Regions from separate parts of the Homo sapiens genome. Here all the other regions are linked to region 1. Evidence: fine-mapped expression QTL. A gene starts in region 1. Each other region holds a variant in brackets. All regions are shown on one strand. Distances are between the middles of the regions.

What was found. PIP is the estimated chance that this variant, and not a neighbour inherited with it, causes the effect.
Region 2: its variant is the best candidate, but not a certain one, in a credible set for the expression of STX18 in whole blood (TOPMed, PIP 0.87).
Region 3: its variant is the best candidate, but not a certain one, in a credible set for the expression of STX18 in testis (GTEx, PIP 0.61).
Region 4: its variant is the best candidate, but not a certain one, in a credible set for the expression of STX18 in hippocampus (GTEx, PIP 0.59).

Annotation. Positions count from the first base shown.
Region 1 is chr4:4,538,878-4,544,363 of GRCh38, forward strand. It overlaps STX18 (syntaxin 18), which reads right to left and starts at 3,171. Exons shown (of 11, transcript NM_016930.4): 1 at 2,920-3,171. The coding sequence starts at 3,087. LOC124900165 reads left to right here and starts at 3,254. Exons shown (of 6, transcript XM_047416490.1): 1 at 3,254-3,598. STX18-AS1 (STX18 antisense RNA 1 (head to head)) reads left to right here and starts at 3,254. Exons shown (of 6, transcript NR_037888.1): 1 at 3,254-3,598. RefSeq lists enhancers at 3,041-3,320, 3,045-3,339.
Region 2 is chr4:4,574,885-4,580,370 of GRCh38, forward strand. The region is part of intron 2 of LOC124900165; the gene reads left to right. All of the region lies in intron 2 of STX18-AS1 (STX18 antisense RNA 1 (head to head)), which reads left to right. It overlaps LINC03091 (long intergenic non-protein coding RNA 3091), which reads right to left and starts at 1,007. Exons shown (of 5, transcript NR_199719.1): 1 at 872-1,007; 2 at 174-327. RefSeq lists a silencer at 441-800. The variant G/A (reference allele first, on the strand shown) is at 2,431.
Region 3 is chr4:4,461,439-4,466,924 of GRCh38, forward strand. The region is part of intron 2 of STX18 (syntaxin 18); the gene reads right to left. Among named protein-coding and RNA genes, the nearest start is that of STX18-IT1, 18 kb to the right of the region's middle. The variant C/A (reference allele first, on the strand shown) is at 2,931.
Region 4 is chr4:4,421,507-4,426,992 of GRCh38, forward strand. It overlaps STX18 (syntaxin 18), which reads right to left. Exons shown (of 11, transcript NM_016930.4): 8 at 3,658-3,716; 9 at 2,012-2,081. Among named protein-coding and RNA genes, the nearest start is that of NSG1, 37 kb to the left of the region's middle. The variant C/T (reference allele first, on the strand shown) is at 3,189.

The DNA of each region.
Region 1 (5,486 bases):
ATTTGGAGTTGTTCGAATAATATAAGTTCCTCCCCCAAATAATCTGAAAAGTCGTTACTCTCCATTTGTAATTTAATGGGTAGACATGCATTTGAGTATATATAAATTTAGTAAAATTGAGCATAAAAGTTAAATGTTTAAAAGAATGATGCAGAAGCAATCAGCCTGTTGTTGGAAGGTAGGGACTGCAATAAAATTGCAGTTTCAATGCAATTTTATTCAACTTAATATAACCTCTACAACAATTCAGTGAGATGGAAATCTGGCATCAGGCATATATTTGAGGAATGGAATGGAAGAATAGAAATTGAACCAGATAAAACGCATCCTAGAAGTAACAGCAAATGCTTCAAGGAAGGCACTTACCAAAAGGCATACTATAACTTATTACATTTCATTAAGTCTGACAACCAGGGCTAAACCTGAATTAGAATATGTGCTTCTGGTATTTACCAGACTTTTCTCTATAAGGAATCCAGGCCAAACAAAATAACAGCCAAACTTTTGACATCTAATTGTAGTAAAAGCACAGGACATCCATCACTAGCTCTTCTAGTTAAACTTCCCACAAGAGAAGATGGGGAGTGGGGAACGGTTGCAAGAACAGGAGATAATACACAAAGCAATGACAACATAAAATCAAAATTGCTTAAAAGAATGTATGTTTCCTCTACGTCAGGGGGACAGTGTCCCTGAACAACACAGCCCATGAACTCACTTAAGGTGATGTGACACCTACTCACATCAATACATAGCAGAACTGCAAGTTGCATTGTCATGCGGTCCAACCCTGTGACATATGCACAAAGCTTTTCTCAAACATCTCTGAAAAGCAGTCATCACTCTGTTTAATCACTTCCAGTGACAGGGAACTCAGCACCCTATGGGACTGTTACTGTCCCTGAGGCCCATTAACTCAAAACTCAAACACATTTTCACCACTCAGGGAGAGGTGGAAGTGATCACAGGGCTCTCCAAAGGGCTTGCCAACCCAACTGTGCCTCCTGTCTCTACCATTCCCAAATCCCCCCTTTCCCTGAGCAGGACTCAAAATTAGCACAGTGTTAATAAATCAGTGGTTTCAGAGTTAGAAGGGACCCTTAAAAAGCCAATACTGTGATATTCATACCACAGTTCTACAAAAGGAATCTCAAGAAGTGCTTGGGCCAAACTGGGAGGGAGAGTGTCCTGTTTCTCTTCCTCTTATTTCAACCTAGGAAGCTCCCACTTTAATTTGTTACATATAGAGGACCAAGGTAGTTTTTTAAAAGGAGGAGGAGAAAAAAAGGACCATTTACAGGTAAATAAACTGAGGTCTTAAAACTTGCTTAATGAAATCATATAGCTAATAGTTGCAGGGTTCAGACAACAACCTCGTCTCTTGGCTCCTTCTCTGGTGCTTTCTCTACCAGATAACATCTGACCATCTACAGGGCAAAATTCAAACTCTGCAATGATACACAAAGCCCTTTAAGATCTCCGCGTCCAATTTTTATGAGAGTCCCACATTCCAGTCTCACTCAAATGTTTATTGAACCAACTTATGTCAGACTGTTACCTACCTCCACAGCTTAGCGCATACTATTCTCTTAGCCTGAGATGTCCTTCTGCACTGGAACCAACTAATCCTCTTTCAAGATTTGTTTTAGGCATCATCGCCTCTATAAAGCCTTTTCTGGTCCTCAGGTAGAACTGACCACATTCTTTTTGTGCCCTACACAACACCTGCAAGGCTTTATGGCACTTGTTTTATGTCTATGTCCGTCTACTCCACCACTGCTTTTACATCATATTACTCTAACACGAGGCTGGTCAGAAGGTAGGTGCTTCATAGACGGTCATCAATAGGGCGAGTGTATTCATCTGGTCCAATCCCCTTTCTAATGTTTAAGTATCCTCTGCTAACTGTCATTAATGCATGCATGACTACATTCATTCAAAAATATCTGAGTGTCTATACAGTGCCAAGTGTATGCCAAGCAGAGAAGGATTTACTGTGAAATTAATGAGGCTTAAGCTTTAGGGTCCCTCTCTTCAATCTTCCAAAGCTCTGAATCTTTCTTGGTGATTTTTATTTCTTGAAGAGGGCAGACAGAACTATATAAGCTGTAGGCCCCACAAAACCTAGATACCTCCTTGGTGTCACGAACACAAAAGGGAACAAGACAAACAGCTCTCCCCTTATGGAGTTTTCTGTTTAATGGGAAAGACAGCCATTTGTTCATTCACTCATTCAACAAACATTTACTAAGCAATGCTATGAGTCATGCATTCTGAGATGAAAACAACACTGTCCCTGCCCTTAAGGAAAAGGTTCCTGTTCCCAGGGAGATGAAGGGACACCTGCTCTGATCAGGGAACAGAAAGTAGTTGAGGTGACTGTAACACTGTGTTTGCGAAAGATTACCCTAAACCCGTCTCAAGAGGAACTGAGTCCTACTTATTGCAGAGACAAAGGGAAGAAAGAGTTCGGCTGAATACAGTTTTTAATCTCAACTAGGGGTGGGAGGCAGACAAGTAAATAGAACAGGCAAATATGGTGTGGTCAGTGCTGCAACAGGAAGCGAAGGACTGTCAGGAGGTTTCCCCTGAGTGCAAGTCTGTAGTGACGGCGAACTCATGACCTCACAAAGCCGCCCATGCACTTTCCAGATAGAGATTTCTGAGGATCTCCTTTCTTGTCCCCCAATCCCTGTCGCCGCAGGAGAAATCTGTTCCCCAATATGCGTCCCCCTTCCTCAAAATAAGGCTGTTCCTTCCCCCAAAAAGCTGTAGGGTCTCTGAGGCCAACTCTTCTGTCCCCCTTAGAGCCACCCCCTTCACACAATGCTTACGGGACGGGGTCTGGTTTGGGGCCCGGGGTCCCTGTCGCAGGACTGCCCCCTCCTCAACCCGCCGTTTCCATAGCAACCAGCTCACCACTTCGCGGGCCCGGCTGGAGAAGTCGCCCTTGGGCCGGGGGCTCCGGCGGAACAGCTCGTCCCGGCTGCCATCGACCCCGCCGCCCACCGCCACTCCCAGCGCCTTGTTCCGCGTCTTCACGGTCTTGACGCTGGCCCGGAATAGCAGCGTGATGTCCACCGCCATAGCGACCCGCACCCTCAGCCCCACACTAGGCCCGCCCACGTAAGCAGCCGGCGACCGCGGCGCGAACCCGGCCGCTGAAGGACTGGTCCTGCCCCACACGCCTCCCCCCGGCAACGGCGACGCGAGAAGAAAGGTTCCGGCCTGCGCCCTGCTACCGCGGCGGGAGGAAAAAGGTTCCGGCCTCAGCCGGCGCACCTGGCGGAGGAGGAACCTCGCGACGCGCTCTCGGGCATCGGTTTCTCCCAGCAAAGCTTGGAGGGTTTAGCTGCGCGGAGAGCTCAGCGAGCTCTTCTGTGTCTGTTTGGGGCGTGTGGGCTCCGGGAGCGTGAGGACCGGGAAGCTAGGAGGCTCCTTCCCTTCTGGCGGCTCCCTCACTGAGACCGGGCGGTTTGGTTGCGGGGGAAGTGGAGACGAGCCACCCTTGACCTTTGACTGCAAGAACTCACCTTGAGCAGGATAGAGGCACGTGGACGGTGACCCTCGGGATGCAATAAATGCTGAGACAGATCAGGTGTGCAAGGCACAGAGCTAGAGGCCAGAGGCCTTTCTTCTCCAACCTTCAGTCACCTCTTTTTAAAGTGAAGCCAGCATCCTCCTCGGGGTTTACTGTGAAAATTAAGTGAGCTGACGCGTGCTGTGTTTTGATGTTGCTTGGCTCCTAGTAAGTGGCCAATAAATGGTAGTAATCGTTAATAATGTTATTATTATAATCACTGTTATTTGTGGTAAAGGAAGAGGCTTTAGAGAAAAGGCGTCACCTGTGCAGAGATTTGAAGGATGAATAGGAAGTTTAGATGGAGACAAAGGTGAAAGAGTGGCCCTAATGCCGCTGGATTCTCTTCATCCTTCATGCATAGTTTTTAATTGTACCGTCTTGAGCCATAGCTATTAAAATTGACAACTCAATCAATGAGTTTCTTCTGCATTTTAGGTTCATGTTCTGTTTTGTGTTGTTTTTTGAGACGGGGGTCTACTATGTTGCCCAGGCTGGATTGCAGTGGCTAGTCAGAGGCGCCATCCTAGCTCACTACAGCTGGAACGCCAGGGCTCAAACGATCCTCCCGGACTCAGCCTCCTGAGTAGCTGGGACTATAGGCACGTGCAACCGTGCCTGGCCTATGGTTCAGTTTTAATTCAAAATCTCATTGATTTCTTCAAGATTTCTTTTTTCATAAAGAGGAAGCACAAGTAGAATATGTATTAAAACAGCAGTTTTAATGGTCATCAAGATAAAATTTTCACAATACTAAGATGTTATTTGCCTTTTCGCTCTGATTTTCTTATGAGTTGCATACAGTTGAGTTTGCTGGAGACTGTGATATTGCAACGGAGTAAATGCAGAACAGCTGTTTTCTATTAAGCCAGACTCCAAAAAAAGACTTTCAAAAACATCAAGTTTTTGTTTTGATTTCTCATATAGTAAATGTCGATAATGTCAATATAAACCAAAATTGTTTAGAGCCCTTAATAATTTTTAAGTGTGCAAAAGAGTTGAGACCAAAAGTTTGAGAACCACTGTGTTAAAAAAATAAAGTTTATCAGAAATAGATGTCAAGAAAGTATATATTTACCAGAAAGGAGGAAGGAAAAGATTTTTTTTTTCTTTGAGGCGGAGTCTTGCTCTGTCGCCCAGGCTGGAGCAAGCTCCGCCTCCCGGGTTCACGCCATTCTCCTGCCTCAGTCTCCCGAGTAGCTGGGACTACAGGCGCCCACCGCCACGCCTGGCTAATTCTTTTGTATTTTTAGTAGAGATGGGGTTTCACCGTGTTAGCCAGGATGGTCTCGATCTCCTGACCTCGTGATCCGCCTGCCTCAGCCTCCCAAAATGCTGGGATTACAGGCGTGAGCCACCGCGCCCGGCCAGGAAAAGATTATTTAAACCCAAACTGTAGCCACTTCTTGCAGTTTAAGGAAAATAAATTTCCATACAGCTTTCTTCCACCTACTGAGGAAAAGAGAAAGAAATTACAAAATCTCTGCCAATGATTCTATCTTGCATAAATGGCCCTTTGTTTAATCCAGACATTAATCAGTTTTTGGCCATGCAAAGTTAAGCCTGGGGTAGAGTAGAAGGAAAGAGAGATTGCCCTGCATAATAAAGTGAGGGGGATTGAATTGGGGGGAAGAAAAGAGAAGCCAGAACCCAGGGAGGGGGCCGGGAAAGTACAAAGTAGGTAACTGGGAAGGATCTTTGAGTGGGAGGGAGGCTGAACTACACCAAGCCTTCAGTGAGTGGTGCCTTGTGTAAACCGTGTGTTTGGTGCAGTTGGATATTTTGGGTAGAAGGGTAGGGACAAAGATCTAAGTTTTCTGTCTGGATTTGCAAGAGCAGAGAAGATTGTGGTGGATATAAGACCCAAGTGAGCTCAAAACATCAGGCTGTAAATCCACAAGTGACC
Region 2 (5,486 bases), 36 kb after region 1:
ACACAACACACACACACACACACACACACACCAGTTTTCTCCCGGAAACTGAGCTAATCCAGCCACGCCCCGACAGACATTTGCAGTGATTTTACACACACACACACACACACACACACACACCAGTTTTCTCCCTGAAATTGAACTAATTCAGCCAGGGCCCCCCTACAAACGTTTGTAGTGATTTTACTCCCAGCGTGGACTCTCCTGCCCGGTCAGCTTCAAGGATTCCTTTGGTCCCAGAAATAGCCAAGGTGGCGGTGAAGGGAGGAGCTGTTTCATTTCCGAAATGAAAAAGTTTAAGATAATTACACAGACGGCTTGAGCCTGCAATGGACAAAAAGTTTCATTATTGGACCCCTTTGGGGAAGGCGCCTCCCATCCCCAAAGGAGCGGGTTAACCGCTCGGCTGGCGCGGCCCCGCCCGGGTCGCCGTCTGAGAGGGACGGTCGCGCCCCCTTTGAAGTGCGGCCGCGCCTAATGAGGGACTCGCTGGGCCTCGGGATCAAGTGTCAGCGCCGCCCCAGACGCCGCAGGGCAGACAAAGGGCGCGGGCCGCCTGGCGGCGCTGGGAGGAGCGTGCGGCCCGCGGCGCTGAGCGGGACAAAGGCGGAGACGGGCGCGCGGCGGGGTCCCACGGGCAGAAGAGCCTGGCCTCCAGCGCCCGGCGCCCGGTTCGCTGCCTCCGGAGCCCCCAAGAGCCTCTCTGAGGGCGGGAGCGGTAGCGCAGGCCACGCCGACGGCGACCACAACGCGCCTGCGCCAAGCCCCGGCCCCAGCGTAACCTCGTGGGTGACAGTGTGACCTGGGTTTTCTCCGATACGCGCGATGTGCCCGCTGAGGGCAATATAGCACCCCCCTCGCACCTCACCCTTAGGCGTGCCAGGCACTCTTCTAAATCCGAGCTTCTATTAACCCATTTCCTGTCCTGCATCACTTTGCAAGGTGGGTGGGGTGAGTAGCCCCATTGTCCAGCTCACTCCATTCTACAGATCAACCCATTGTATAGCTCACCCCACTGTCCAGCTCACCACATTGTACACGTCACTTCATTGTACACATCAGCCATTGTACAGACCACCCCATTGTACAGATCACCTCGTTGTACAGATCACCTCATTGCACAGATCACCCCATTGTACAGATCACCTCATTGTACCGATCGTCCCATTGCACAGATTGTCCCATTGTACACATCACTCCATTGCACAGATCACCCCATTGAACACATCACCTCATTGTACAGATAACCCCTTTGTACAGATCACCTCATTGTACAGCTCGTCCCATTGCACAGATCGCCCCATTGTACACATCACCCCATTGTACACATCACCCCATTGTACAGATCACCCCATTGTATAAACCACCCAATTGTGCAGATCCCATTGTACAGATCACCCCACTGTACAGATCTGTGAAGCGAGGCGCAGAAGGAGTCCCAGATCACAGAGCTAGAAGGGATGCTGCTGGGCAGGGTGGCCTCAGAGTCCCAGACAGATGTTTAAATATTTGACATTTTTGTCGTCTTGTGTGTGTATGTGTTTTTAAAAACCCTTCATTTATTTATTTAAATTTAGAAATATATTTACTTTGATTAAAAATATATTACATTAAAGTATTCTTTATCTTGGTTATTGAGATTTTGGGCGCCCTCTTAAATTTTGGGTCCCAGGCGAGTGAGGCCCTGTCTGGCTTTTATGCCTCTTTACTGCCTGGGTCGAGGCTTTGGATCCTCACAACAAGCTCTCGCAGGCAGGGTTACTGACCCCTTGGATATTTCAGAAGGGGAAAAACTGAAGCTCAAAGATGTGAAGTGACCTGCCCAGGGATGCCCAGCAGGGACTGTGACACCAGCTAGTTAAGGTACCAAGTCAGTACCTTGCAGGCCCTTAGCTACCTTTGTTTTGTGGAGCCTGGCCGTCATCATAGCAAACTTCAAAACACATTACATATGGCCTTTTTATTCCATAATATCTGAAACTATATTTTAAAAATAATTTTGATTTTGCTTTTAGTTGGCTACAAGGCACTAATTTACAGTGGCTGTGATTTCACAGAAATGATTGGGTGTACTGGGAAATTCTTGCAAAGTGAGAAAATTAAATCCTTTTCACATGTAATGAAATTTTTAGGAATAATTAATTTAGCATTTTAATGATGTTGACACGGTGCTACCTTCTGTAGACATTTAATTAGACATTTATTAGTTTTGACTTTGTAGTTTGCTTTCCTCCTGGTGGAGCCAAAAATTACTTTTCCAGGTCTCCAGCATTTTTGTTGGAAATCCCTTCCAGCAGCATGGGGGTCCCAGGCAACTTTCTTAGGGTACCCAACCCCTAGGATGGTCCTGCCCACTTCAGTCCCCCACCTCCTCCCCATGCTAGGGGTGGGGCACCTCCCATCTTTCTAGTGTCCTGGCTTTCATGT[G/A]AGCAGGACCTTCTCAGGTCAGGCCCTGCTAAGCTGTAGATTCCCTGGAGTCCAGTGTGATTGTAACCATGTCTCAATCACCAGCCTAACTCTAATAGAAGGAGGGTACTTGTCAGTGCTGAATTGAATTGTGAGTTTCTCATGAGAGGTTGGGGTAGAAGAACATGAGATATTAAGTGTACCAGAAAAAGGATGGGTAGTTCTGGTGTGTTTCAGTCAGCTCTGGCTGCTATAACAAAATACCATAGCCATAGGGTGGCTCAGATAACATTGACTTCTCATAGGTCTGGAGGCTGAAAGTCCAAGAAGTAGGGGCCAGCTGATTCTTGTCTGGTAAGGGCTCCTGTCCTGGCTTGCGGATGGCTGCCTTCTTGCTGTGTTCTCACATAGTGGAGAGAGAGAGGGAACAAGCTCTCTGGTCTCTTCCTATAAAGGCACTAATCCAGTCATGAAGATCCCACCCTCATGACCTCATCTCAACTAAACTATCTCCAAAGGCCCCACCTCCAAATACCAACCTTGGGAGTTAAGGCTTCAACATATGAATATGGAGGGAACACAAACATTCTGTCCATAACATGGTGCTACTACTCATGTTGTGTGTCCCCAGGGAAGTTTCTGCACCTCTCTGTTCCTCAGTTTCCCCTTCTGGAAAATGAAGGTGGATCAGAAAATTTCCTATCTGAAGCTCCTTTCAGTGCCATCATTCTCTCATATGGGTTCATGGAAGAAGCAGTTTGGTTTCATGCAACTGAGCATTAGGGAAAGGTAAAGTTCTAATGGCCTACTTTCGCAAATGGGGTCAAATAGATATTTTCTCCAGTGATAGCCTGTGATTCTCTGTGATTTTTTTTTCTGGGTGCACTCTCCTCACTTTTCCTTGAATCCTTAGCAGACACTGCCATGGTCTTTCTGTGTGTCTCATGCCATTGTGACTTGTGTGACCACCAGGCATTGGGCTTGGCATGTGGCAGGTGCTCATTGCAGGAGGGAACATCTTTTCCAGATGAGGAAACTGAGGCACAGAGAGGTCTGAGTCAATGCAAAAGCAATCTAACTGCTATGATGTTTCTGCACAGCCTTCTCTGGAAGAGGAGAGATTTTATATATCTGCAAATTGCATGGACTTTCTTCTTACCTGTACCCAAACCACAGCTGCATGAGGTCAGTGAGGGACACTGTGTTCCCACTAGAACAGCTTTCAGGGCAGAAGACAGCTTTCCTCCTTACAAAGGAATCTCACATCCAGTCCTCCACAACCTATTTTACCCAAAGGCTTCTGACTAAAGACAGCTGTCTGGGGGCCCAGGAGCCAGGGTGCCAGTTCCAGCCCTGGCACAAGCATTCTTTGTGACTTGGAGCAGGTCCCTTACCCTCTTGGAGCCTTTGTTTCCTCCTCAGGGAACCAGAAGTCTGGACTAGATCAGAGCTTCTCAAATCATCCGAGGATCCTGTTAAAATGTGGAGCCTGATGAGGAGACCTGCTGGGGGCAGACATCCTGCACTTCTAACAAGCTCCCAGAGGATGCAGTTACTTTTGCCCATCTGTGGATTCACTGAGGAGCAAGCAGGACTTCTAAGGTCACCTCTTGCTCTGAAGGGACAGACCTTGAGCCCTGGCAGTGGGCACAAAGAGAGTGACAAAAACAAAAAACAAACAAACAACAACAACAACAAAAACCCAGTTGCCCAGATTTGGGTCAGCCAGGAGAGCACAGAATGTGAAATGATTCCAGAGGGATCCTTCCAACCACAGATACAAAAATCAACATCGTCATCGTCACCATCAGCAAACATTTGTGCAGTGCTTTCCCCTGTCCTGAGCAGCTGTCACATCCTTGAACCCAGTTGACCCCTACAGGCACCCTGGTGGGAGAGGAGGACACGGCTGAGGAATCCATTCAGTCCCGGTGGAGGAGCTGGGCAAGAGCACAATAGTCCCTGAAAGGATTGTTTCCATGCAGCCCTTTGATTTTCTTAGCATTTTTTTTTTTTTGGTGCCTGCTTTCTGACCCCTTCTTCCTTTGTCTCCTAATGCACCCCCACCCCGCTCCTAATTCTTCCCTCCCCCAACACACACACACACACACACACACACACACACACACAAAAACGTCAGGAGGAGAAAATCAGTGTATCCACCCACAGATTTCTCACTTTGATCCTTTCCTGTCTCACCGCCTGGAACCCAGCTTCAGAGACCAGGATTCTGGCTCGTTTTGGGGTGACCCAGTCACTTCCACTCTTCTCACTTGTAACTATGCAATTTTCCTTAAGGTGACATTTGTGAAGGATTTATGTTGTCTGGGCACTATGCTGAGTGACTTCATTCTCACTTCACCCTAGGGAGTGGGAACTCTTAACTATCTCCACTTCATTGGTGAGAAAACTGAGCCTTTAGGATGTTTGCCTGCCCAAGGTCACCTAGTTAGTAAATGATGGAGTCAGGACATTACCTGACCTTGGCTGACTGACATCAAAGATCATTGTAGATGAACGCACAGTTGTAAGAAGTAATACAGAGAGATTTGTGTAACTCTTATCCAGTTTTCTCCAAAGGGAGCATCTTGCAAAACTGTACTACAATATCATAACAAAGATATTGACACTGATAAAATCCACCAGCCTTATTCAGATTTCCTCAGTTTTACTTGTCCTCATGTGAGTGTATTTAGTTCTTTGCAATTTTAACATGTATGTAGGTCCATGTATGTAGCGCCACAGTCAAGATACACAACAGCTCTGTCAGCACAGGCTTCTGCAGCCTTTAATAATCACATCTACTTCTCCATGTCACCCAGCATCCCTCATTCTTGTAACACTAAACCTGTTCTCTATCTCTATAATTTCATTATTTCGAGAATGTTCTGTAAGTGGAAGTATATGCTTCTGGGATTGGCTTTTTGACTCAGTCTAATTCTCTTGAGAGTCACTGAGTTATGGCATGCATCAGTAGTGTTTTGTTTTTTTTTTTAATTTTAACTGAGTGGTGTTCCATGGCATAGAAGTACCACAGTTTCTTTAACCATTTACCCACTGAAGAATATCTGTGTCCA
Region 3 (5,486 bases), 77 kb before region 1:
TAAAAAAAAATTAAATGGGTCAATAAAGTCTGAGCTCTACATTCTGGAAAAAATTACAGCTTCCTAATTATGTCAAACTAACAAAGCCTCATAGGTCTGAAGGCAGTATTTCTACACATATTCTTTCAATTCCATGATCATACTCCACATAAAATGTTCCTAGGAGCAGGCCAAGGCTAGCACATTGCACTGGGAGGGCAGAAGAGTAAAAAAGAAAGGCTTTAAGCAGTCTACCACCTTTGGGAGGGAGAACTTGATGAGAGACAATAAGGGTGGTCTTTCTCCACCTGGACAGAACCTGGGCTACCGGGGGGAATGCTTATTCCCTAATCCTCATGTTTCTGTGGGAACCAACTTCCCCAAATGACACCTTGCCTCCTCCCAGAGCCTCCTCCCTCTGGCCCCCTCGCAGAAAGCATGGGGTGTGCATATAGTCACCACACCTTTCTCTCCTCTCTTTTACCTACTTAGAGACAGCAGAGGTTCCGCTCTGTTCCTCTCTCTCCTATGTTGCAAAGGGGCCTGTCCCTGCTGTCTGTGCTCCAGGGGCTGCGGCTGCGCAGTGGCACTAATGCCTGAGTGTGTCTAATTCAAGAGCAGAGTATCAACAAGGCCACCCGCCTGCAAACCAAAGCTTTGTTTGCTGACCTAGATTTTACCAATGATAAAGCTGATATGACACGTGGGTCTCCACTGTGTTGATCTGACTCCTGCCTCCATTTCTTTCTTTCTCCCTCCTCCCAGCTCTCTGGCAGGAAACAGAGGTGGGTTTTGTCTTGTTCAATAACCAACACCCTCCAACCCCCTGCAACTGCAGCATAGGTCAAATGGGGTTCCAATTCAATTATCATTCACCAGGAGACTTCTATGTGTCAGGAACTCTCATACCCACCTAATTTAATCCTCACGAGAACATCATCCACATTTTATAAAAAAGAAAACTAGCACAAAGGCAAGTTATATTCATTCACATGATAAATACATGGCAGGATTGGGACTGGAACTTAGGTGTGACTGACCCCAAAGCCCATGCTCTTTCACAGGGACCAAAACAGGGGGTGGAGTAGAATTCAGTGTGCATGAGTTGGCAATGAACAACTGGCCTCGGGAAAATGAGTAAAAGATAAAAGACTGAGTTTCTAGCTGGGTATCATGTCATATGCCTATAGTCCCAACTACTCAGGAGGCTGAGGCAGGAGGATCACTTGAGCTCAGGATTTTGAAGCTAACCTGGACAACATAGCAAAACCACCTTAAAAAAAAAAAAAAGACTGAGTTTCTAGAATGAGGCGATGTACCTAACAAAATGAAGAATGCCTCGGGGACAACAGTTCTATCTTCTGAAGTTATCTGCCCTTAAGTGGCAGAGCTGGCACTGGCCCCTAGGGAACCCAATCCTCAGTCCTAGCATTTGCTGCCCTTGTAGCTGGGAAAGGGGAAGGCTTAGGCCCTTCTTTACTGTACTAAGATGAGAATCCATGCTGCAGTAGTCTGGGAACACTGAAAAACAGTGTGCAGGAGCCTCCTTTTGCTGTTTGAGTATAATAACTGCCTTAACATCACTATTACATCGAAAGCTTAAAACAACTGCAAAGTTGCAGAAGAACACCCGGATGCCACTGTGTTGTTCTTTTCACATTGCATTTGAATCATACTGTCTGCTTTGAACCTCTCAACTGCTTCCTGAGTGAGTATCCCTCCCACTGTTGGCTTTGCAAATTTTTTCTGAAAAGGGCCAGAGAGTAAACATGTTAGACTTTGTGGGCCTTGTAGCCCATCACAGCTACTCAACTCTGCTGTTGTAGCATAAAAACAGCCCTAGACAATATGTAAACAAATGAACGTGGCTGTGTGCCAATAAAACTTTATTATGGGCACTGAAACTTGAATTTCACATAATGTTCACATGTGATAAAATATCCTTATTACTTTTTCCCCAACATTAAAATATGTAACTACATTTAAAAGTATATTTAAAATGTAGATTTGGCCTGTGGCTGTTATTTGCTGACCTGTAGCATTAGAGGAAGACACTGAGTTTCACAGATTCACATGGTTCGTAAGGAGTGGTGTGAATCAAACCAACACTCTAAGCATTTACTTTGCTGGATTTCTTTTCAAGGAAAAGGGAAGTTAATAAGTGATTTGTATGAAAGATATTTACAACCACCTCGTCAACCTAACTTGTCAGATACTAAAGAAAGAAGCTACAAATTGAGAGCTTTATACAAGTTTTGTAAAGTTTTACAAAATCACTGTAGCTTCCATTTTTTACAGCCTATCAAATCAGTATTTGATACACATACACACCTTTAGAAATAAAATTGACACTGCGATCTAGTGTTAACCAACTATTTTTAACTCAGAGCTTAAAAATAAGGTTTTCTTGGTACTATGCATCGGAATAATTATTTTAGTATATTCCAAAATAATGCAAATGAAGTGCATTTAAAAGCATAAAATTGCCTATGGATGTTAAGTGCAAGTAGACAAAGCATCAAGGATTATTTAAAATTCAACTAGGGTATAATTATTTTTCTCTATTGGAGAATTTATAAGAAGTATTTCCATTTTTGCATATATTGACAAAGTTAAAAAAAAGCAGGATTTATTTTATATTCTCTATCTTTGTGACAGGAATGCTTCTGAAAGGCAACCACCCCTCGTTTTATAAAGATGAAATCCTAAAAAGATGCTCCTAATGATGTTATCTTATCTGTCAAATCCAACTTTTTCATTAATTTACATAATACATTTGAAGATGAGTCCTACGGTAAAATGCCATCCTAAAGCCAGTGCAAATGGAGCTAGGGGAAGAGACGAGACAAGACACCTGTACTCCCACTGTCTATGGAGAGCTGGAGTCTATTCCAGAAAGCGTTTTAGAAGTGTTGCTTATAATGTTTTTTTCTCTTTTTCTTTCCAAATGG[C/A]ATTTTCGATGACTTGCATCATTCCTTCATCTGCTCGATAAATATTTAGTGTGTGAGAAACTATCTTTTTCATCTCTGCATGTTTCACTACAGGACAGACGCTGTCTGCAGGGTGTATGCACGTGCCAACCCCTTTGCATTTGGATTCCCTTCCCTCCTTCTTGCTTTACCTAGGTAACTCGTACTCCTTCAGAGCTCAGCTCAAATGTCACTTCTTTAAGGACACTTTCTCTGACAAGGCTAAATTCCTCAAAAGCTACCTGTTTGCAGTAGTTTCAAAGAACTTCTTGATTTCTGCCTTAATTTCATTATTTACCCAAGAGTCATTCAGGAACAGGTTGTTTGATTTCCATGCAGTTGTATACCTGTGGGGTCAGTGGTGACATCCCTCTTAACATTTCTAACTGTGTTTATTTAAATCTTCTCTCTTTTCTTCTTTATTAGTCTAGCTAACAGTCTATCTCATTAATTTTTTGCAAAAACCTGGATTTTTCCAAAAAAGTGGCTCCTGGATTCATTGATTTTTTCGAAGCGTTTTTTTTTTTGTGTGTGTCTCTATCTCCTTTAGTTCAGCTCTGATCTTGGTTATTTCTTGTCTTCTGCTAGCTTTGGGGTTTGTTTGCTCTTGGCTCTTGTTCTTTTAGTTTTGATGTTAGGTGTTAACTCGAGATCTTTTTAGCTTTTTGATGTGGGCATTTAGTGCTATAAATTTCCCTTTTAACACTGTGTTAGCTGCATCCCAGAGATTCTGGTAAGTTTTATCTTTGTTCTGTTGGTGGGAGCATAAATTAGTTCAACCACTGTGGAAGACAGTGTGGCGATTCCTCAAAGACCTAGAGGCAAAAATACCATTTGACCCAGCAATCCCATTACTGGGTATCTACCCAAAGGGATACAAATCATTCTATTATAAAGACACATGGACAAGTACTTGTATGTTCATCACTGCATTATTCACAATAGCAAAGACATGGAATCAACCTAAATGCCCATCAATGAATGATAGACTGGATCAAGAAAATGTGGAACATATACATCATGGAATACTATGCAGCCATAAAAAGGAATGAGATGATGTCCTTTGCAGGGACATGGATGGAGCTGGAATCCATTATCCTCAGCAAACTAACGTAAGAACAGAAAACCAAATACCACATGTTCTCACTTATAAATGGGAGCTGAATTATGGGAACGCATGGACATGAGGCGGTGGGGAACAATACAAACTGGGGCCTGTTGGAGGATCAGGGGTGGGAGAAGGGAGAGCATCAGGAAGAATAGCTAATGGATGCTGGGTTTAATACCTGGGTGATGGGATGATCTGTGCAGCAAACCACCATGGCACACATTTACCTATGTAACAAACCTGCACATCCTACACATGTACCCAGGAACTTAAAAGTTGGAAAAATAAAAAGCTATCTGTACTGTTTTTGCAGTACCTATCATATCTGCAATGTTACCTGTTGACATGAATACCTTAGCAGCTCCATGAAGGCAGGGACAACCATGTTTGTGTTTGTTCACTATTTTATACTCCATGCCTGGCATAGTCTATGGCACATGGTAGGCACTCAATAAATAACTGCAGAATGAATAAGCTGATTAATGAATCAAATTGATCAAATCATGGCACTATAAACATGCAGAGATGAGTAGGACACAGTTTTTCACCTCAAGAAATGTGGTAGAAGTGATTACGAACAAATTACTCTTCTACCAGGCACATGTGAAAAGTACCATAAGAAAAGCACAGAAAAAGAGCTGTCAGTATTCAGAGGCAGGAGAGATGGCTTTCAGATAGGAAGGCAGGGCCAGGGCAGGCTCTACCGAGAAGGTGGTGGTGATAAATGGGTCTCTCAGGATGGAAGCATGTGAACATGTGACATGTGTGGATTGGAGTGAAGAGCAACAGGCCAACCTGATAGTGTGAGTAGAGGCCTGGAGGCAGAACAAATGTTAATTCTGAATGCAGCTGTAGGGCACATGAAGGAAAGGGGTAGGATGGAAAAGTGGGTGAGGGTAATGAAAAGTCTTGCTTATCTAAGAAGTATGGATGGGCCACATCCTGCAGGCAGAGAAGGGATTTGAAGAGGGAAGCACGTGATTCCATCTACGATGATAAGGACTACACCTGTGCCTTCCAGACAGACCAGGAGAGGAAGGGACAAAGAGCAGGGAGTTGAGAACAAAGAGATCAGGCAAGTGACAAAGGCTGCACTGAAGCACTCTAGAGCGGATGGGAGGAGCGGGCAGCATGCATGGGAATGGTGCTGCTCACAGGTGCTGGGCGAGCAGGACAGTGGCAATGGGGACTGGGAGAAGCCTGTGCCTATGACATGCATTTAGGAACAACTGTAATTGCCCAACAGGTTCATCTTGCCCACCGCCCAGATAGAGCTGATTTATCAAGACAGGGGAACTACAATAGAGAAAGAGTTAAATATACATAGAGCTGTCTAAAAGGGACACTGGGGTTTTATTATTACTCAAATCAGCCTCCCTGAAGATTTGGAGGCTCGATTTTTAAAAGCCAGTTTGGTGGGCAGGGGGCTA
Region 4 (5,486 bases), 120 kb before region 1:
GGCCTCCCAGAGTGCTGGGATTACAGGCATGAGCCACCGCGCAGGGCTGAGACCCCATCTTGTTGCAGTGCTCCTTCCGCCACACTTACCATCCCTCCTGCGCCACTCGCCGGTGACGGACAAAAACCTAAGAGCTATTGTTTGTGGAGCAGCCACCATATGCCAGGGGCTTCCCTTCTAGTCTCTCATTTCTTTCTGAAGTCCACAGAAGTAAGCTTTAAAATGTATGTGCTTCGAAATACATATGCTAGCTTCAAAAATAGTGCTTTGTGTTTTACTATCATCATATCTCTTAAAAAACAGGCTAAAATTTAAAAATCAAAATAGGATGCAGGATGCTTACAGAAAACGTTTACTCCAAACGAAGCCTTGAAAAGCTTGAGAAGCGTGGGATAACACAGGGGGCGTCTGGCCCCACAGGAGCAGAGACGGTGCTAGACGTCCTTACAAGCAGGAGTGCCTGCTTCTCTCCTCCTTTCGGTGGTGGTGAAGCTGCTTCCTAACAGGGTCAGGGCAGAATGAATGCTAGCGTGGGTTTTTAGAGAAACCTGACTGACACATTGTAGGGAGGAAGGCAGCATGTGGCCTCTGATTCCCAGCAATGAATATTACTGGGATGGCTTTGCCTCATCATCACCCCTTTTTAGAGAGTCTCAAAGTGTGAACTAAGTGACCACTGCCAAGGTTCCAATGAGAGAATCAATATGAACTACAATGCAACACTGATGGAAAAAACAAGAAAGACACATTGTTCCTCAGGACTTAGGAACTCCCAGTGGGCCGGGCGCAGTGGCTCTCGTCTGTAATCCCAGCACTTTGGGAGGCCAAGGCAGGTGGATCACCTGAAGTCAGGAGTTCGGGACCAGCCTGGCCAAGATGGTGAAACCCCGTCTTTACTAAAAATACCAAAATTAGCCAGGCGTGGTGGCATGCCTGTAATCCCAGCTACTCAAGAGGCTGACTGAGGCAGGAGAATCGCTTGAACCTGGGAGGATGAGGTTGCAGTGAGCCAAGATAGCAACATTGCACTCCAGCCTGGGCGACACAGCAAGACTCTGTCTCCAAAAAAAAAAAAAAGAAAAAGAAAAAAAAAGAAAAGAAAAAGAAACTCCCGGTGAGCCAAGGCAAGGCTCTGCCTATGCTCTGCACGCCCCTCCCAGGCCCCCTGGAGCCGCTGGGAGGTTTGAAGCAGGGTAGTGTTATTAAAAAGGGCGACTCCTATGAACCCGAACTTGCAAACCACTGTTAGACTTAATGTACCTCATTTACAATGATTTCACTCTGGCTGTGTGGTTTATGGAAAGTCATTTTGTGAGTGAAGTATCTTAAGTCAAGTAGTCCAGTTTAAAATACTGGAGAAAATTTTGTCTTTCAAACGTTCCCATAGTCTTTGGATGCTAAAAATAAAAGGGCAAATTTATCAGGTCTTGAAAAGTTTTGCCAGTTATTGGCTGGAAGAATTTCAGAAAATTCACTTGAAAAGAACAATCCTATTTCCCACGCAGACACCATCCCTGAGGTGGCATGGACCGCGCGTTGTGAGAGGCCTGGGTCTGAGCTCCTGTAACCTACTGACTGAAAAGCAACTGCCCGTCAGCATCGTGCTGGATGCTTCTGCAGTTATCTCTCAAACAGAGAATAACCCTGCAGGAGTCCCTCCCTCCTATAGATGGGAAACTGTAGCTTGTGGGGGCTACCTAGCTTACCCAGCACATCCAGAACCCTGACTGCCAGGCCTGGACTCTCCTCCCACGTGCCACCGCATGTGCTACCACATGGGGTGGTCAGTGGGTCCCCTGTGGGGAGCTCCTCCTCCATCACACGTGTGCAGAGGCAGCTCTGGGTAGTGAGAGCTTTTCCCTGAGGAGCTCTGCGCACACACACCTGCTAGCAACACATGGCTCTGCTCCTGGCTGTGTAGAGCAGCAGCCTTTGGGAAAAATGTCTCGTGCTCTCAAGTACATTCCCCTTTGAGTGAAAACATACAGCTCCTTTGTTTTTGTTTTTTTACCTGTTGCAAAACCTTTTCCGTGAATATCTCTTGGAGTCTGGAAATCTCAACCACTCTCCCTTCGATTTGCCTTCATAAAAAGAACAGATTACATATTAACTATTAGCACTTGGTAATCTAACAGGACTGTTACACACTTCTAAAGAAATCCTATCTTCTACGTGAAGGTGGGAGAGACAGGGGGCACACTGTGTCGGCTGGGGGAAGAGGAGATGGGAGAGGAAGGCGAACTCTCCTTACTGGGTCACCTTCCCTGTCTTCTGGCATAGCCTAGCACACTGGTCTTTTTGGAAGTCCACTCTACCATGCCAACTGACCCTCAGTCCCAAGAGGTGGGTGTGTGCAGTGCCCTTTGCATTCTGTGTCACTGCTCGGGGAATGGGGAGGGCCTGGTTGTGCCCCAGTTACAGAAAGCAGTCTCCAGTAAGTTCTCTGCCTAGCCTCATCACCATGGTAACACATGGTGGGGATTCAGAAGGTCAGAATATGCTGATGATCCAGCTTTGTTAATGCTCAGCAGGTTAAAGAAAAAAGTGTATTTACCTTCAAACCAACTCCCTGTTCCAAGAAAAAAGCTCCTCTGATTCATTTAGAAAATGCCATGTCTTGGTTTGGCAACGGAGTGTTCTGTCGGATCTGAAACACTTGGGCTAGCCATCTTCCTGGTGTCAGGGGCAGCATGGGCTACCCTGGGGGGCGGGTGGGGGCACATCTATTTAGAAACAGAAGCTGGCCCAAGCTGAAGTCAACTGCTGTTCCAGCACAAAGCAGCGACAGGAAGTGACAGGAGGCAAAAAGTGGTGGGAGCTGAGCTCCTGGCCAGGTGGAAGCAGTGATGAATCCCAACAGTATCACAGTGGCAGGGGGCAGGGGAGGAGATGTGGGAAGAAAAGCCAGTGAGTATCTGGGCATGGGGGAGTAGCGGGGTGGGGGCGGTAGTGGGGCAGACAGTGAAAGCTAGGCTGTCAGAGGAGGACTAGGAGGTCCATCTCTGAGGGCAGAAGGCGAAGAGCCCCTTGGAGGCTGACACCTACACTGAGAAAGTCCTCAGGCTGTGTGAGTGCAGCATCAGGATTGATTTTATTTGGGGGACATGTCCACAATACAACAGGCTCTGCAAAGTCCTGGGCCTTACTTTCAGCATGCTCCAAGCCTTCCCACAGAAACTAGAGGCTAA[C/T]GGGTGCATGTGTGAGTGACCAAGGCCTTGCCTTCTGCATTCCTGACTCCCTGGTGGGTACAGGAGCAGGCAGACCCCAGTGGAACCATTTGCAGAAGAGGGCTTCCCTTGGTTAGCTGCCCTTCATAAGGGCCCCATTTCATTTCAGAGTCGCTGCGTGGAAACAGCCCGAATGGTGGTGGAAATTATACGCAGGTAATCTGTAGTCACTCCTGTATCTCTCGGGGTGGGAAGCACCTGGGCCCCCCGCAGCAGTGGCAGCAGGCAGGAGGTAACCCACAGGCCCACAAGCTGAGGGAGTTGTGGATTCAGGCCACATGCCCACCCCAGCCCAGTCAAAATGGCTGAGGGGGGCTGCACCAGCCCAAGGGCCCCATGGGGATGCCTGGGCACCAAGGTAAATAAAGTTCCTAGTTCCTGGAAAAGTTGTAAAGCAGGCTATCAGCTCACAGAGGAGCTACAAACATACCTCACTTCATCAAACAAGCTGTTCATTTCACCAATTAGTCGCTGATTTTCCTGTTCAAACTGTGAGGAAACAGACACACTCAGGATGACATCATACTGAACTTAGGCAAGAGTCTAGCAAGAAAGCGGACCTACGCTCCAGGAATCACTGCCGAAGCCCCCATTTCCAGCTGCGGCAACGTGGCAGCCGGTGCTGGACGACCGTTAGCATTAGTGTGAACAACGTCCCTGCTTTCAGGAGAAAGTTTTAAAAAACAGCTGTGCTGCCTGGTAATTGACTTCTCCATCTCAACCACTGCACTCCAGGGGTACAAGCTGACTGCTATGGCTGTAGCTGTATCTACCTACCCGCTCTCCCCTGGGATCCCACGGCCTGCTTCCTGACTCTAGTACCATTATTAAGAAAATTCTTTTGTTGTTGTTTTCTCTCATGAACTATACTGAAGGACTATACATATTTTTTAATATGGAGAAGGATCTGGTGTGGGGAGGGTCTGGAGAGGAAGGGGAGGTGGGCAGCTTGGCCGAGCTGCCTCTGGGCCCCTCTGACTTCAGAGCCTGGCCACTCCACTGCTCAACAGGGACAGAGGCCCAGAGCCAGAGGAGCGTGTTTCCCAGTGCTCAGGCTGGGTGAGGACGGGTGCCCTGACACCAGGGATACATGGGAGCTTCTTGGAGCTGAGTGAGCTTGGCACAGACAGTTGCTCTCCCAGCCATTCTTGCCAGTTTGATATGGGCCAAAGAAAAGGATGGAAGCTCCTGAAACTCAGCACAGAGAATGGACAGGAACAGCTCCTTGCCCTCACTGCAGGCCCCCACAGCCCTGTCCTCGTGTGTCCACTCAACTCCCGCAATGTGCAGGGAGTCAGGGGCGTCCTGCATTTCCTCCCCGATGCATCCCGCAGGCCCCACTTCTCCAGGACACCTACCCTGGCCCCTAAGCTCAAACTTATTTCTCATATTCCTATCCTTGGCCTACCATTTTCTGAAAATATCTTAGGATAGTAGCGCCCAACGGTCCCTTTCTGCCTTGTAATAAACTGTGCCCATCCCAAACTTCCCGTGTCACCCTGAGCTTCCTGAGGGCGGGAACTGGGTGGAACATAACTTTGCAAAGGCATTCCAGTTGTTCTTTCTTTCTTATAGATTAAAGCTGCCATCAAATCCACAAATATTTTCTGAGGCATTCTGTAAGCAGGAGTGGGAGGGATACATACAAGCAAGCCTCTGGAGGCTCCGAATCGATGGAAGATCTGGCTTATCACTTGCTTAGTAAACCAAAAATACAAGGGAAACAATGGTTATGGGAGGCAGCTGACCACCACGGGCTATGCTGGCACTTCATTCAACAGCCTGACCTTGTTGCCATTGTCCTAGGGCGGAAATGAGTTGCAGGGTCTCCCCAGCAGCCTCCTTCCCACCCAGGACCCCTCCCCTCCAAGTACCCCAGCTGTGCTCTATGCAGGCGCTCTTCACACACACGCCCCTTCCTAAGTCCACCAGTTTCGCCCCCGCACATGCACTTGCTGTATTCAGCCCTTCCCCTACCGTCCACATTCCACCCTCACCGTTTCTCACTTGCCTCCAACCTGTTATCCAATCCTTGGTCAAAGTGATCTCAAGTGCTGGTCATGCCAGAATGCCTCATGGTGGCCTTGCCCGCTGACCCTACAGATCAGGTCTAGGGCACACTGTTATCCATGCCCTGGCCACGTGACATCTCCCATCTCAGCTCTGCTCTGACAGGCTAGTTTCCTGCCTGGCTGCAGAACTCCACGTGGTCCCTCAAAACCCCAGGCATCTTCCTAGCGATCTGATACCTCAGGGCAG